Regions from separate parts of the Homo sapiens genome. Here all the other regions are reported to be linked to region 4. Evidence: microRNA targets listed by miRTarBase, many of them from high-throughput screens and not tested one by one. Region 4 holds a microRNA gene; each other region holds the end of a gene's coding sequence. Distances are from middle to middle.
The links. The annotated mature microRNA hsa-miR-5197-5p reads CAAUGGCACAAACUCAUUCUUGA and lies in region 4 at 1,901-1,923, opposite strand. An mRNA with a match to its seed (bases 2 to 7 or 8) in the 3' UTR can be bound and repressed. Matches are read on the target gene's strand: a 7mer-m8 pairs with bases 2 to 8, a 7mer-A1 pairs with bases 2 to 7 and ends in A, and an 8mer does both.

Region 1 (4,000 bases), 16 Mb from region 4:
AAAATCTCCTACAATATTATAATGATGGATACATGTCATTATACATTTGCCTAAACCCATAAGAATGTACAACCCTAAGAGTAACTAAGGTAAACTATGGGCTATGGGAGATGTTAGGTCAATGCAGGTTCATTGATTGTTTATTATTCATTGATTATGGACCACTTATTGTTCATTGATTATGGACCACTCTGGTGGGGAGTGTTGATAAAGAGAGAAGAAGCTATGCATATGTAGGGGAAGGCGATATATGGGAAATCTCTGTACTTTCCCTCCTTTTAATTAATTCTGCTGTGAACTGAAACTAAGAAATAAAACTACTCGAAAACCCAATACTCAAGAAGTGTCCTCATGACCATAGGCCTTAAATTCTTGCCTATTACCTTTATCTCCAATGTATCCTCTCCTCTAAATATTTTGAGTTCTTGCACCCTGAAGTTAGCAACTCTGGTATATGTGAATGTTACAGTTCCACTAGAAAGATGGTGGTTAAGTTGCTGTTGTACAAGAATTCTTGGCAGCCAGTAACAAATTTAGGTAAAAAGAAATATGCGTCCTTTCAATATAAACTAGCATTTAAAAAAAAAATCGCTATACAACTTTGGAAATAAGTCAAAGCATTGTTTATTTATGACATATTTACATATTTACAAAACTGATTTTACTCAATACATCATCCTGCGTAATATCATAAAATGAACACCATATCCTGGGAATAAAAATCCATATTTCTTAATAATTTATGTATAGCCCAACTTTTAGAACATAGAATATTATCAATTTGGCTTCCCAAACTACAAAGTCCTGTTTATAATTTTTTCTAGCCAAGGAACAGAGTAGATTCAACAGCATATTAAAGTAATTTAGTTAACCCTGAGTAATTACTAACTTGCATAATTTTGAATGGATGTATATAACACACTTTCATCTGCACTTAGATACTTATACTATCACACTACCTTTTTGTATTTATCCACCTCAATTTTCAACTTCATTAATCTTCAGAAGAAAGAGGAATAAAGAATAGGAAAGTAATAACAGAATCATTACGAGGAAATTACTAGCACTGCCTAAACATTCAGAAGTCTGTGACACAGTTTAGGTCTAGGGTTGTCTCAAAAACCTAACAAAAGGAGGATCCCGAATTGAATAATCTGAGCACCTTGTCAACTGAGGTTGATATTAAATTATTTTTCCTGCATTCTTTGTTTCCTTTCACACTAATTAAATATTGTGTACAAGCTTATAAAATTCAATAATTTGTATTAAAATACAAAATCCAATAACAACCAGGAGTTCTTCGGAAGAAAAAAAAAATCACAAAACAACCCCAACAGTGGTGAAGAACTATATTAAAGATGGCTTTTCCTAAGACAGAGGGAGAACAAAAGCAAATAGCACTCTCCCTCCGCCAAGGCTAGAGCAGGAGGTTCAAGGAAATGGGCAGGAAGAGAACAGAACACTCAAGCTGGACGATTAGTGAAGGAAACTGTGGCCTGAGACTGATGATCAGCATATCTTATGCCTAAACACCACCACTAAGACTACCTGGCTAAGCTGCCATGGTGTGTTAGAGATGATGAGTTACTTTTCTTGCCCCTTTTACAACAGGGAAATCTAAGGACAACAAAATAAACAAAAGGCTGAGAAAGCTGAGCATGTGAAGTCAGTCATGCTCCGCTGCTTTTCAAAAACTCTGGGCCAAGAACAGAACCAGAGAGGCCAGAGCAGTTCATGTATTTCTCTCTTCCATCTGACCATCTCTCATCTTCCTCACCCACTCACACGGTTCCGAGCAGGAGGCTTACCAGGTCACCAGGGGCAGGAAAATTTCTAGCTTCAACCAAGCCATGGACTGCCACTGCTCTTTGGGGATTCTAGGAAAATAATCATCTAATGAAATGTCAGTATTTGTGATTCTATGAGAACAATTCTCAAAACATCAAAAAGACATTTGTGACTTGGTAAAATAAAAATCAAAGAAAAATTAAGGTATTTTTAGAATCTGTAAGATTTCCTTATAATAGGAGGGAAAGTAGCAGAACTATTTTAAGTAAGGACATGCTTCCCTTCAGTCTGTAATGAAAGACTGTTGTTGTCATCATGCCATTGCCATGATAAAATACTACTAGAAAAGGATAGCTTTTAAAATAAAGTGTAGACGCAAATGGTAGAGAAAGCCTTCTTGTACTTGAAGGAAAGAAAGAAAGTATTCTGTCCCTGTTACTCCTGGACAAAAGTACACCAAGGCAACCTATAACCTCTCTGTGCTGTCTCTCATGACTTTTAATGACACGGAAGTCTGATATTCACTGAACAGTCATTATACAGTGCTTGGAAAGTAACATATATTTAATATTCAAATTTAATATTCATTCTTCTTATCCTCAGGTAAAAAAATAGCAGAAACCAAATAATGACTTGAAGTGGCATTAACACAAAGCAAACCTGATACCTATGATACCTAAAGACAGTGCAGGACAAGAGCTTCAACAGCTTTTATAAAACTGCCAGAGATTGTGCTAATTCTTTTACATCTAAAGAACTGTATAGAAGAGTAAAAAAATTAAATTACATTTATATAAGAAACTATCTTCGAAAAAGTTATTTGAACTTGTATATACAAAGTCCAACAGTATTAAGAAAAAAATTTATTTAATTATCATTTATATAAGTCCAAAAATGATATAATATATTATTTGAGGGGAAAAGGCTTCCACGAAATAGAAATACAGTAGACTAAATAAACTAGATTGAATATAAAATAGTTTCTTTGAAAACATCCATAAAAAGTAAAGACCAAATGGCACAAAGTTAAAAAAGTAATGCTTAAGGCAAACCAAATAAGTAACCTTAATTGAAGTAAGAGACATACTAACCCACAAGCAATAAAGTAACCCCCTCTCAAAAATTTCTGTATTAAAATGTGTAGAGAATATGAGTGGAAGCAGAAACAATGGCTGTTGTCAGAGCTTATTCTTGGAAGTACTGAACAGTATTATACAAAAATAATTTGAATACTTCTGATTTAAAATATACTTGAATCATTTGCCCCTTAGCTGTCATATAGCAATGAAAAAATAAAATGTATTACCCCAATGTTCATAGTATAAATCTGGGAAATGCCAAAAGTTATGTTTAAAATTGACAAAGGTATGATTTTCCAGATTACATGTGTACGTGATGGCCAAAAAGGAAAATAATCAATTCCATTATTTTGGCCCATATTACTGAAAACATGCACAGAAATGTGGAACATCTCCCGACAAGTAGGTGTCTTATAGTGACTGTTGAGCAGGCTGCTCAGCACCAGCCCTGAGATCGTGTGCACATACAAAAGTAGTCAAAGACTGACAGAAAAGAGATGAAGCCAAAGCAAATCATGCTTTTATAAACATTCAACCAACATGTTCTTTAATAATGTCTTCTTTAAAGAACAAAATAATCAAGTACATGGCATTAAGTTAAATGTCTCTGCACATGAATTTCCACCTTATAAATCTGGTATATTAAATTGTGCTGTAAATAGATTTGTATATTTTCTTTTTTGAGTACTATGATAGGTGAAATGGTATGACTATAAAAAGGATTTGTTTCTTTTTGTCTCCTGGAATGACATGATGCCTTTCTAGAGAAAGAAAAATTGCAGGCTACAGGAAAATGATAAAAACTACTGGATTCATTTAGACTATTCGATTTAGGAAGGTACAACCACTTCTTTAACATCAAGCTAAAAGTGGGGGAAAGTCTCAGTCTCCCAGGTAGGTCTCCTCTCACACTGTCCTGGGTGGCAGGCGCTGTTTATACATGCCCGCTATCGCTCTGGCTGCACTGTAGATCATCTGCCGACGGGACATCCCAGTAAATGCCATGTGCCAATCAGTCCGGCTGACATTCAGTAAACTCTTTTCCAGGACTTCACCCACTGTCACCAAAAGGCCTGACCACCTCAGATTATAGTCCTGGGGAGTTAGACTTTGAGCCTGTGGAAAGATGAAAT
Region 2 (4,000 bases), not on the chromosome of region 4:
TATGGTTTACTCATCACTGTTAGTAAGGTAACTTAATTGTCATGCTCACGCTAAGGAGTACGACACTAATAATACCACTCCGTATGTCAGCTAATAAGATAACGAAATAACAAACATGTTAAGACTAGCTAACACATGGGAGCAATAGCCAATGTAAATTTGTATAAAGTGAGAAGTATTCAATCTTCTACCTAACAATGAAGCCTAGACCTGCCATCAATATCCCAGCTGGCAGGCTGAGCAGTTTCATCAACATCACCAATGAGTCACCAGAACTGAACAAAGTGACCAACAATGAGGACTGGGAACAAAGCCAATTTGACCTAAAATGAAGTCATCATTTTTGCATAACTCTGCTGGGTTAGACATGTGCGAAGAACAGATGCCAAACTGCCATTATATATTAAGCTTACACAGGAGCAAACAAATGATAAAAGAAAAAAAAAATCCTCAAACAAACAAAAAAACCCAAAAAAACCAAAACAAAATGAAACTAACCCTGCCAGCGTTTCAATAATTCCCTGAGATGGGCTAAAGGAATGTGGGAGGTTGTGACATATATACCAATTACAAATGAGTGGTTCTTTCAGAGACTTGCAAGCTGATGTTAATTTATGACATAGAAACAGCTTGTGGTTTCAAACACACTGCAGTCACTTTTTTCACACGTTTACCTTAAGTGAGCTTTGACCCTATGGAAGAAAGTTGCTTTAGGGCATTACTGGATTTTCATTCATAACTCTATGTACAGATACACATATGAAAGCAGCAGCAAATTTACAGATGAGGAGCAATGATATTCATTATGTTAAAATCATACTTGGCCTCATGTGAAACACTCAATTTACAAGTAACATTTATGAATCCTGCCTTATTTTACTTTTTGTAGGCAAGATAGCTTAAGGTATATAAAAATTAACTCATTTGGCAATTATAACTCCATGAGTTGATGGCAGAATTACTAACAAACCAGTTCCTTTCTAGCAAAGTCTTAAGAAAAACATTCTAACTACTCTGAAATTCAGAAGAAACAGATATTGAGTATTGATATTTAGTTATTGAGTATAACTAAATATCTAAAGTAGTTAGTATCTAAGAATCTAAGAATAGATTCACTTGTAAGTCAGTTCTAACTTTAAAAAAGTATGTTTAAAACATACTTCAGACTGCAATGTAACAGGGATTATTACTAATGCCTATAATACAGCATTCATATTTAGGAGGAATGGGCATCTGTTATGCATGAGCAAGACTGGGAATAGGAGAAGACAAGATTCCTTCCCTCAAAAGAGCTTACTGGGTACAGACATAAACAACTGTAGAATGTGATAGCACCATCATGAAGACTGAAATAAATAATCACAAAAGTTCATACTCATAGCAGTAAAGCCCCAAAGGACTGAGAAGATGATTCAAGTATAGAAAGAACTTCCTGGATGTTCTCAGAAGCAGTGACCACATAAGACAAGAGGGAGCAGTTGAACTTTGCCCTGAACTTCCTGGCATGTTTGACTAGGAAAAAAGGCTGCACCATTAACCTAAATTGTTCCAGGAGGAAAAGGTGATAAATATTGTCAATCTTTAATCAAGGTTGAAATGTCAACTAGGCAATTAAAAAGAAGTACAAGTCTAGATTTCTGGACCAGGTATGTAATCCAGAACATTGGTATAAAATAAAAACTCTAAGGATGAGATACCGAGAAAAGAGCCAAAAGCATTCTGAGGACAGGATCTGAGAGAGCACATGTTCAGCAGGCACATCTTAAATTAGGGTTATGCGACTGTACTCACAGTTATTTCAGAGGATAGCATCTTCAAGGAAGGAGACACTGTCTAGGAAAGGTTGCTCAATGGTGTAAATGTTGCAGAGAAAAGGGTAAGGGATTCAGACGGAGAAAAAAACCATTCAGTTTGGTAACTGGGAGGCCATTGCTGACTTTCAAAAGAACAGTTTCAGTAGAGTGCTGTGTAAAACCAGACTGCAAGGTGCTGAGTAGTGAGTGATGAGGATGTAGGGGCACTGGATGTGGATTTCTCCAAGAAGTCTGTCAGTCAGTGAAGAAGGCTGGAAAAACTAGCAGGTTAAAAGGGAGGGGTTTTTTTTTTGCATTGGAAGATACACGAGCATGTTTGTAGACCTCAAAAAGGAACCAGTATACAACTCGTTTATAATTTTGTAATGACTACAAGACTAAAAAATAATTTTTAATATTTTAAAAAATGTTCTGAAATAAAAATACATAAAATTTAAATTATATGCATTTTACCATTTAAACTTAATACAAACTTAAAAGAACTAGCATTTCATGATAAATTTTATTTCTAAAGGGGTCATACAGTTCTGTTATTGGACTACTTCAGAATTTATTTTGCTTTTAGACTATAATGAGAAACTAAATTTTATTAACAATTGCTATTTTAGTTCCTGAAAGATTACTCTGATATAAAGGATTACACTGAAGTAATTATGTATGCCTTCTTCCTCAGCCCTCCTCCCCTAAAGACAAAGTATCTTCAGGGTAGTTAATAATTTTGAGAATATTTTTCAAGTTGAAAAAGAGAAAAATTAGAAATAGTATTCCATTATTAATAAGTTCTTAAAGATCTAAATTGTTCACAATAATTTTTCATGATAAAACATGCTTATTTATTATATACACATGCTTACATATGTATTTCCTGTCTAAAATACATGCAACCACCATGAAAAAACAAATATTAAACCATCCTCACAGTCCTAAGAATGCCCTTTTAAATAAGGCACTCATGTTTGGAAATAGGATGTAACTACTAAATTAAATAAGATGTTTAAAGAAGTCTTTTATTAAGCACAAACAACTTTTAATACATTATCAATACAAATAGGAAAAGGTCTTTTAATGACTATGATATATCAAAGATCTGAAAGGCTTTCTCTGTATTGACACAATAAAAATAATCAATTCTGAAGAATTACAAAGTAAAATTTTGAGGACACCACTGTCTACTAACAAGAGTTTAACTACTGTCTAAATTTACTAAATCACCTGTGGAGGAAGGGCAACTTTTTTTTTTCTTTTTAATAGAGAGAATTCCTACTCTTATTAGCACCATTCAAAGCTTATTATCAGTTGTTTGTCTACAAACTGACAGGTCAGGTAAAGCTTTAAAGCAAGTTTTCAGTGCAATGTTTATAGTTCCTTCTTTTAAGATACTTGGAATCTACAGCCTCGAAGCATGTTAAGTAATTATGCCTTGGTAGTAGCAAGGTGTTAACATGTAAAGAGAAATGTGTCATGAAAAGAAATGAGACTTATTTTGGCTGTGAAATGCATCTTAAGGTGTGGTGGCTAATGCTGTAGTATGTTGACAACATGCGGGATTATGAACTGCAAATCTGTAGGTAGCTGGTAGCTATTAGCTCTCTGTGGTCACCATTTCAGGATGTCTCAGCTGCTGCCTTTTGAGATTAACTAGTTTCATCCTGTCTCTGATGTTTTCTGCAGTAGAAGCCATGTCACTTGGACTCCCAAAATATTGTTCGGTTCTAAAAATCAAAACACACAGAAAAACCTCAGATTAATACAAATCTATTAACTGCAGTGAATACAAATAGAAGCAAAAATTTACCATAAAAAATCTACATGAGATAGCCTATGTGTAAATATCAGTTCATCGGTGATCATACTGTTTGAGCAGGAAATTCAGCAGGAAAAACATTTTTTAAAATGGCATAAAATACATTAAGACATGATGAGAAAAATATATTGATGGTATAAAGGTTATATCATGTGTAGTTATGATAATAGCAACAAATTGAACAATGAAACACTGGAAATATGTGGGTCCAGAAGGATGCACAAACATAAAATTTATACAGGTACTTGAGTGCTACCGGCTGGGGACACCACTTGTCTATAGAGCTGGCAAGCAAAATAAATATTCTTTTTAATGTTATGACATTTTTTGGTACATTAACAGATAAAATTATTAATTTTATTCTACTCTCAAAGATACTGTA
Region 3 (4,000 bases), not on the chromosome of region 4:
TTCTGTCCATAAAACCAACCGCGGGCCGGGTGCAGTGGCTCACACCTATAATCCCAGCACTTTGGGAGGCCAAGGTGGGCAGATCACGAGATCAGGAGTTCGAGACCAGCCTGGCCATCCTGGTGAAACCCCCGTCTCTACTAAAAATACAAAAAATTAGCCAGGCATGGTGGCGCATACCTGTAATCCCAGCTACTTGGGAGGCTGAGGCAGAATTGCTTGAACCCAGGAGGTGGAGGTTGCAGTGAGCCAAGATAGCGCCACTGCTCTCCAGCCTGGGCGACAGAGGGAGACTCCTTCTTAAAAAAAAAAAAAAAAACCCGCCTTGGCTGGCTCATCCAAACACTTATTCTGTTTTTCTGTTTTTGTTTTTGAGACCGAGTTTCGCTCGTTGCCCAGGCTGGAGTGCAATGGCACGATCTCGGCTCACTGCAACCTCCGCCTCCCGGGTTCAAGCGATTCTCCCGCCTCAGCCTCCCGAGTAGCTGGAATTACAGGTTCGCATTGCCACACCCACCTAATTTTTTGTATTTTTAGTACAGACAGGGTTTCACCATGGCCAGGCTGGTCTTGAACTTCTGACCTCAGGTGATCTGCCCGCCTCGGCCTCTCAGAGTGCTGGGATTACAGGCGTGAGCCACCACGCCGGGCCACTTATTCTGTTTCATGGGATGAAGTGTTGCTCAATTCTAGAATACCAAATAAGCCAATTAAGATTTTTAAACTAAATGTGTTGTAATTTTGTCTTTTGACAGTGCCATTGTACAGGTGATTCACTACTCCACCACTCCACTCACCTACTCACAATGACGGTTTTCAACATTTCAGGAACGGTTTCTACCTTAGGCTCAGAGCAATTCCTACTTCTCCCTCATGAGGAATTGGAGGAGGTGGTGATAAAATTCTTCATCTGGTTGTGAGGTGGTATTTCACACAACTCCTTGATAAATATTGGAGGTGATACTGGATACAGGAAAACTTACAATAATCAGATTGTTACAGGTAGTTAGGCATCAACAGGGCAGCAGAGGGCTCTCTCCCGACCCACTAGAAATGTCAGGTGATGGTTCAGCAATTAACAAATTGCCTCTCTAAGAATGAGAATTCGGCAGCCAGGGAGAGACAATCTCTTGATGGTCCACACCTGTTAACATTAAAAGTGTTAATTGAATACAGCCCCCCAAGCAGCAGCTTCTTGGGCACCCGTGTTAAGAGACAAATGGCGAAGTATAGGCCGGGCACGGTGGCTCACACCTATAATCCCAGCACTTTGGGAGGCTGAGGTGGGTAGATCACCTGAGGTCAGGAGTTCAAGACCAGCCTGGCCCACATTTTATATTTTTTGTATTTTTAGTCTCTACTAAAAATACAAAAATAGGCATGGTGGCACGTGATGGCGTGCGCCTTTAGTCCCAGCTACTCAGGAGGTTGAGAAAGAAGGATCACTTGAGCTTGGGAGGTGGAGGATACAGCGAGCTAAGATCATGGCACTGTACTCCAGGCTGGCTGACAGAGACTCCAAAAAAAAAAAAAAAAAGAAAAGAAAGGCCGGCACCGTGGCTCATGCCTGTAATCCCAGCACTTTGGGAGGCTGAGGCGGGCGGATCACGAGGTCAAGAGATCGAGACCATCCTGGCTAACACGGTGAAACTCTGTCTCTACTAAAAATACAAAAAATTAGCTGGGCGTGGTGGCGGGCGCCTGTGGTCCCAGCTACTTGGGAGCCTGAGGCAGGAGAATGGCATGAACCCGGAAGGTGGAGCTTGCGGTGAGCCGAGATCATGCCACTGCACCCCAGCCTGGGCGACAGAGCAAGACTCCATCTCAAAGAAAAAAAAAAAGGAATTTATAATTATATATTATTCTGTATCTTTATATATTAATTATATATTCTATAATTTTTTTGAGATGGAGTCTTGCTCTGTCTCCCAAGTTGGAATGCAGTGGTGCAATCCCAGCTCAATGCAACCTCCACCTCTGGGGTTCAAGCGATTCTCCTGCCTCAGCCTCCGGCGTAGCCAAGACTACAGGTGCATGCCACCATGCCCGGCTAATTTTTGTACTTTTTGGTAGAGATGGTGTTTCACCATGTTGGCCAGTCTGGTCTTGAACTCCTGACCTCAAGTGATCCTCCTGCCTTGACCTCCCAAAGTAATGGGATTATAGGTATGAGCCACCACGCCAGGCTATATTCTATAAATTCTAAAGAGAATGAAAAGGACTTGCCAAGCTTCCTTTGGGAGATACTAAATTTGTTTTTTTTTTTTTTTTGAGACGGAGTCTCGCTCTGTCACCCAGGCTGGAGTGCAGTGGCTTGATCTTGGCTCACTGCAAGCTCCGCCTCCTGGGCTCACACCATTCTCCTGCCTCAGCCTCCTGGGACTACAGGTGCCTGCCACCACACCCGGCTAATTTTTTTTTTTTTTTTGTATTTTTAGTAGAGACAGGGTTTCACTGTGTTTGCCAGGATGGTCTCGATCTCCTGACCTTGTGATCCACCCGCCTCAGCCTCCCAAAGTGCTGGGATTACAGGCGTGAGCCACCACCCCTGGCCCAAATTTTTTTTTTTTTTTTTTTGAGACAGTGTCATACTATGTCATCCATACTGGAGTGCAGTGGCACCATCATTGCTCACTGCAGCCTTGACCTCCCTGGGCTCAGGCGATCCTCCCACCTCAGCTTCAGGAGTAGCTGGGACTACTGGTGTGTACCACCATGCCTGGCTAATTTTTGTATTTTTAGTAGAGACAGGGTTTTGCCATGTTGCCCAAGCTGGTCTCAAACTCCTTGGCTCGTGATCCTCCTGCCACGGCCTCCCAAGTGCTGGGATTACAGGCATGAACCACTGTGCCTGGCCTAAATTTACTTTTATAACAATTACTTTTTAAAATGTCAGAACTTCCTTATAATTACACACATATATTTTTATACAAATGCACAAAGGTAATCACATCTTATCTGGATTTCTGTGTGCACCTTTTCTTAAAAATGTTAACAATCACATATAACCTCGTAGAAATTGTTTTCGTTTGCAGATGCCTCCTTTTTCATAAAATTATGTCCTTGTTTTATAATGCTGTCTTTTCCAATATAGCTGGGATCACGCCACTGCACTCCAGCCTGGGTGACAGAGCAAAACTCCATCTTGGAAAAAAAAAAAAAAAAGAAAGAAATATAATTGGTGATGCTTCTGAAGAGAAAATCCTTTGTGGTTCTTCATATTCCTAACTTGCATGACACTCTTGCTCAAAGAAGGATACCTGCTCCTAAAACCCGTCTACCAGCGGGTCTGGCTACTGTTGCTGTGGATTCCTGGGCAATACCAATCCTGCTCAACGCTTTGGATGTCCCACTCTGCCTCAACTCCAATCGGCCTCTATCATTGCAAACAGTTGGCTGAGCCTTTTCTTAATGTCCAGTTCATTTGGAGCAGGACAGGATTTTGTGTGTACTCTGATGTGCTCCGCAAGCTTAGACTTGTAAATGAAGCCCTTCCCACAATCGCCACAGGCAAAGGGCCTCTCGGGCCTGTGGATGCGCTGGTGCCTCAGCATGTGTCCCCTTTCCCGGAAGTTCTTGTCACACTCAGGGCAGTGAAAAGGCCTCTCCCCTGTGTGCAGGCCCTGATGGCTGAGCAGCTGCGCCTTCAGGCGGAAACTCTTGTCACACTTGGGACACTGAAAAGGCTTCTCTCCCGTGTGCGTTCTGATGTGCTCGATGAGCTTTGAGTGTTTCACAAAGCCCTTGCCGCACTCACAGGAGAAAGGCATCTCCCCGCTGTGCAGCAGCTGGTGGGCCTTCATGTCGGCCTTCACGCGATAGCGCTTGTCGCACTCCGGACACTGGAAGGGCCTCTCTCCCGTGTGCAGGCGCTGATGGCTGAGCAGCTGCCCCTTCAGGCGGAAGCTCCTGTTGCACTCTGGGCACTGGAAGGGTCTCTCCCCGCTGTGCACGCGCAAGTGCTCCGTGAGCTTGGATTGTCTGGTGAAGCCCTTGCCAC
Region 4 (4,152 bases):
ATGAACTTGGGGATGGGCGCGGTGGCTCACGCCTTTGGGAAGCTGGGGCAGGTGGATCACGAGGTCAGGAGTTCGAGACCAGCCTGATCAACATGGTGAAAGCCTGTCTCTACTAAAAATACAAAAATTAGCCGGGCATGGTGGCATGCACCTGTAATCCCAGCTACTCAAGAGGCTGAGACAGGAGAATCACTTGAACTCGGGGGGCGGAGGTTCCAGTGAGCTGAGATTGCACCACTGCACTCCAGCCTGGGTAACAGAGCAAAACTTCATCTCAAAAAAAAAGAATATGAACTTGGGAGTCAGGTAAACTTAAATTTAACTTTTATCCTTTGCCACTTGTTAGTTGAATGACCTTAAACAAATTACTTACTAGTCCAAGCTTATTTTCTCATTTAGAAAGTGGGTCTAATAATAGTACCTACCTCATATACTTGTGATAAGGATTAGAGATAATGCCTGAAAGTACTTGGCACGCTACTTCAGACTTTAGTATTCAATAAGTGTTAGCTGCTTTTGTTATCTTTCCATATGCTCATTAATACTATGTGGGAATCAACCCAACTAAGCGACCACAGACAGACCTGCATCCCTCTGAGAAAAACTCCTACCTCATCCATCTCTGAAGCAACTGAAGTCTCTAGAATTATTCTTGGTACAGATTTGACCATTTATTAGCTTGGTTTCCATGGTTACATTAGCCAACCTTTGGGCTTTCGCGTCTTCATTGTAAACAAAGATGGCCACTCTATGTACACACCAAGATAATCACATGTGAAAATGATTGTAAAGAGTCCTAAGAGCAAATATGAGTTTTCAGTTTATGCTCTTGTCTAGAGAGCTAATATTTTAGGATTAGGTTAGGGAGTGGGAAGGAATATAAACATCTGGGAGCACTGTGTAATGTGTATCCAAAGACATTTATCCCAACATCACTGACTCATACACATCAATGAATTGAAGGGTTTGTCATTCATAACAATTATGCCAACCATTCTAGCTGCGTATAATCAGTAAACCTGTTTTCTTTGGAAAGCTGAAGAAGTCACATGGTCTCCATTTTCATTCCAGTGATGTTCCATGGTGGTTTTAAAAATTCAGGGGCTAGGGTTAGATAATTTAAAAAAGGCCCAGCACGGTGGCTTGTGCCTGTAATCCCAGCACCATGGGAGGCCAAGCCAGGTGGATTACCCGAGGTCAGGAGTTCCAGACAAGCCTGGGAAACATGGTAAAACCCTGTCTCTACTGAACATACAAAAAATTAGCCAGGCATGGTGGTACACACATGTAGTATTAGCTACTTGGGAGGCTGAGGTGGGAGGATCACTTGAACCCGGGAGGCAGAGGTTGCAGTGAGCCAAGATTATACCACTGCACTCCAGTGAGACTCTATCTCAAAAAAAAAAAAAAAAAAAAAGAGAGAGAGAGAATTAAAAACAAAAAAAACCTCAGGCTATATTTCTACCAGTGGACAGTCATTTTTCTCATACACAGTAAAGCAGTGTATATATAAAACAAAGTAACATGAATGGAAATGAAATAGCCAAGAAGGGAAAAGGGAATAGTGGATACAATCATCTTCATAGTTCAATTAATATTCTACCATGCCAAGAATTTTGCATATATTATCTCAACTCTTGCCTGTAAGTAGATACCATCATCTCCATGTTACACAGGAAGAAGAAATTAAGGCTTACAGAGGTTAAGTAATTTGGCCAAGGTCACAGACCTGTGAAGTGCAGAACACTGCCCTCTTTTAATGTCTGCTTTTCTTGTTTTGTTTTCTTGGATGGTTGAGTGGAACTGGCCACTCTGAGTTACCCTCTGTGTTGACAGAACATGAGGTGAAGTGACATTTAGAGCATTCGATGACTCAGTCTCTTCTTGAACTGGCAAAAATTCAAGAATGAGTTTGTGCCATTGATACTCATTGTCTGTGGAATCCCATACAGTTCTTCCCTAGCTGTAGATCAGGGTCAATCTGCAGTGACAGAACATTCTACTTCTCTAACATACCATCAGTTTTCTCTTATCACTGTAATGATCTGTTGGGTGACCTTCCATCAATCAGTCTGCTGTTCAGTTTCCTTCATTGTCATTTATGAAGCGTATCCTATAAGTAAAGCCCATTTATACTGGGCACATAGGAGACAGAAAAGTGAAAGAGATTATCCCTGCCTCCCCACGAGAAACTACTCTAGTGGAATTGACATGAATAACTAGGTAGGTAGAGAGAAATAGATGGATGAGGAGACTATGACAAATATGAGAATAAAGGCTAGAATAGTTTGCTATACAAGCAGGAAAGGGAGGGTGCTAGCTTGAAGGTGGGGATCTGAAAAGCCATCTTGAAGAGGCAGAATTTGATCTGGGCTTTGAAAGAAGGATGAGGGGCAAATCTTGGAGAAGGGTCGTGCTACCAAGCAGACAGGACTGTCTTGATTATCCAGCTCATAGATGGCCATCTTGTCCTCTTTTTCACTGGGCTCAGGAATAGTCTGAGCTGCTTTCTCCATACTGCAGCCCAAGGGATCACCACCAATTCTACATAACTGGTTGGTATAAGGAATGAATCCTCTTGACCATCCCTGATTTACCCCTATAGTGGCTCTGCAGGAAGGAATGTTAAGCCAAGTAATCGGGGAATTGTTGTATCCCACAGACCTGAGTAGATGACTATTTGGATTTAGAGAGGGTCTTTCAATAAAAATAAAGTACACAACAAATATAAGTACCTACTTATAGACATGTCCTTGGAACCTCTTACCTCATTCCTTACCTCTCTCTCATCTATGCTTCTCATGGTACTTTATTTAACAGAGACATTTGTTATTCACCTACTTTGTGCAGGGCTCTTTGCTAGGTATCATACAAAGATGTATAAAATATGCCATCTGTTCTCGAGGAACCATCAATTTATGGAAGTATAAGACCTACATTCAGAAAACTATACAAGTCCATATAATCAGAAGGTCATGTGCATTGGCATTTTGAAGTTCTACACTCTCCCATCTCTATAAAGTAACTGGCTTGAAAAAAACAATCTGCCTCCAAAATGTAGGGTATGGTCTCAGGAGAAAGTGACTCACACAAAAAGATGATGACTTTTTGTTCTTCTGCTGTCTCAGAATTTTTCTATCTGTATGATTCCACATTCAAATTCAAGTTTTGAGATGAATACCCAGTTCCCTTTGTATTGGGTGACATTCTATGCTATTAATCTCAATTGATAATTTTATCTGTGTAATGGCTTCTAAGTATGAAAAAAACAAAAAAATTCCTCTCCGATATTAAAGTTGGGAACCAAATAGAATAAATGTTTTACATCTGACCCAAGCATGTAGTGGAAAAATACAGAACCTGTATTTTCAAATCATTTAAATGAAACATGAAATTGAAACAGAAAGTCAATAACCAAATTAATCATCTTATTACAAAGAAAATGTAACCTGCTTCATTACTGTAATGGCAAACATCAATAGAGTAGAAAATTGACCAGTTTTCTTACATTAGAAAAAAATCTGATTCCTGGTTGCCTAGGAAGCTCTACTCATATTAGTCTTTATTGCATCTTCTGTAATGAATTAAAGCCTGTAAGGTCTCATTAGCACATTACTAATGTAAGTTTTAAAAGCCATATTAAATAACATAAAATGTTACAGTATGAATGTTGTGAGGCTGAGTGTTAAGAGAACAAATTTACATTTTACTATTTTGAAAGTGAACCCATTTGGTTTTGAAGATATTCAACAGCACATGTAAAATAACCAAGAACTTTATCCAAATTAAATAGCAAGTTGGAAATAAGGGATGTAAGTCTAAGAGGGAAATGTTCACCTTTTATATCTAAAGCAAGTCTTCCCAGATAAACCACTTGGCTGATCAAATCATGGGTCAAGAAGTTTGATCCTTGCTCCATCAAATTGGATTACAATTAAGGTTCTAATGTGTCAAAAACATATTTTAAAATATATTCCTTTTCATACAATATGTTATCTTCATACTCACTCACAGAATTTTAAGATCTTAAAGTGGCATAAATTAAAAGTAATAACAAAAGCTAAGAAAAAAATAACATGGGAAAAGAAAAGGAGTACTCAACAATAAGAGCAAGCTTGGAGGTGCACAGCACATTCCCTCAGACCCTTTCTA

Region 1: the mRNA of PRRC1 is a reported target of hsa-miR-5197-5p. Seed matches in the 3' UTR shown: 7mer-m8 at 2,803-2,809.
Region 2: the mRNA of SESTD1 is a reported target of hsa-miR-5197-5p. The part of its 3' UTR that is shown has no 7-base or 8-base seed match.
Region 3: miRTarBase lists ZNF786 as a target of hsa-miR-5197-5p. The part of its 3' UTR that is shown has no 7-base or 8-base seed match.

Annotation. Positions count from the first base shown.
Region 1 is chr5:127,551,690-127,555,689 of GRCh38, reverse strand. It overlaps PRRC1 (proline rich coiled-coil 1), which reads right to left. Exons shown (of 9, transcript NM_130809.5): 9 at 605-3,983. The coding sequence ends at 3,774. It overlaps LOC124901058 (a long non-coding RNA gene), which reads left to right. Exons shown (of 2, transcript XR_007058924.1): 2 at 1-333. Among named protein-coding and RNA genes, the nearest start is that of PRRC1, 36 kb to the right of the region's middle.
Region 2 is chr2:179,106,503-179,110,502 of GRCh38, forward strand. SESTD1 (SEC14 and spectrin domain containing 1) reads right to left here. Exons shown (of 18, transcript NM_178123.5): 18 at 1-3,526. The coding sequence ends at 3,397. Among named protein-coding and RNA genes, the nearest start is that of CCDC141, 58 kb to the left of the region's middle. RefSeq lists silencers at 26-226, 1,306-1,506.
Region 3 is chr7:149,067,064-149,071,063 of GRCh38, forward strand. ZNF786 (zinc finger protein 786) reads right to left here. Exons shown (of 4, transcript NM_152411.4): 4 at 2,578-4,000. The coding sequence ends at 3,360. Among named protein-coding and RNA genes, the nearest start is that of ZNF786, 22 kb to the right of the region's middle.
Region 4 is chr5:143,677,657-143,681,808 of GRCh38, reverse strand. It overlaps MIR5197 (microRNA 5197), which reads right to left and starts at 1,949; the gene lies at 1,838-1,949.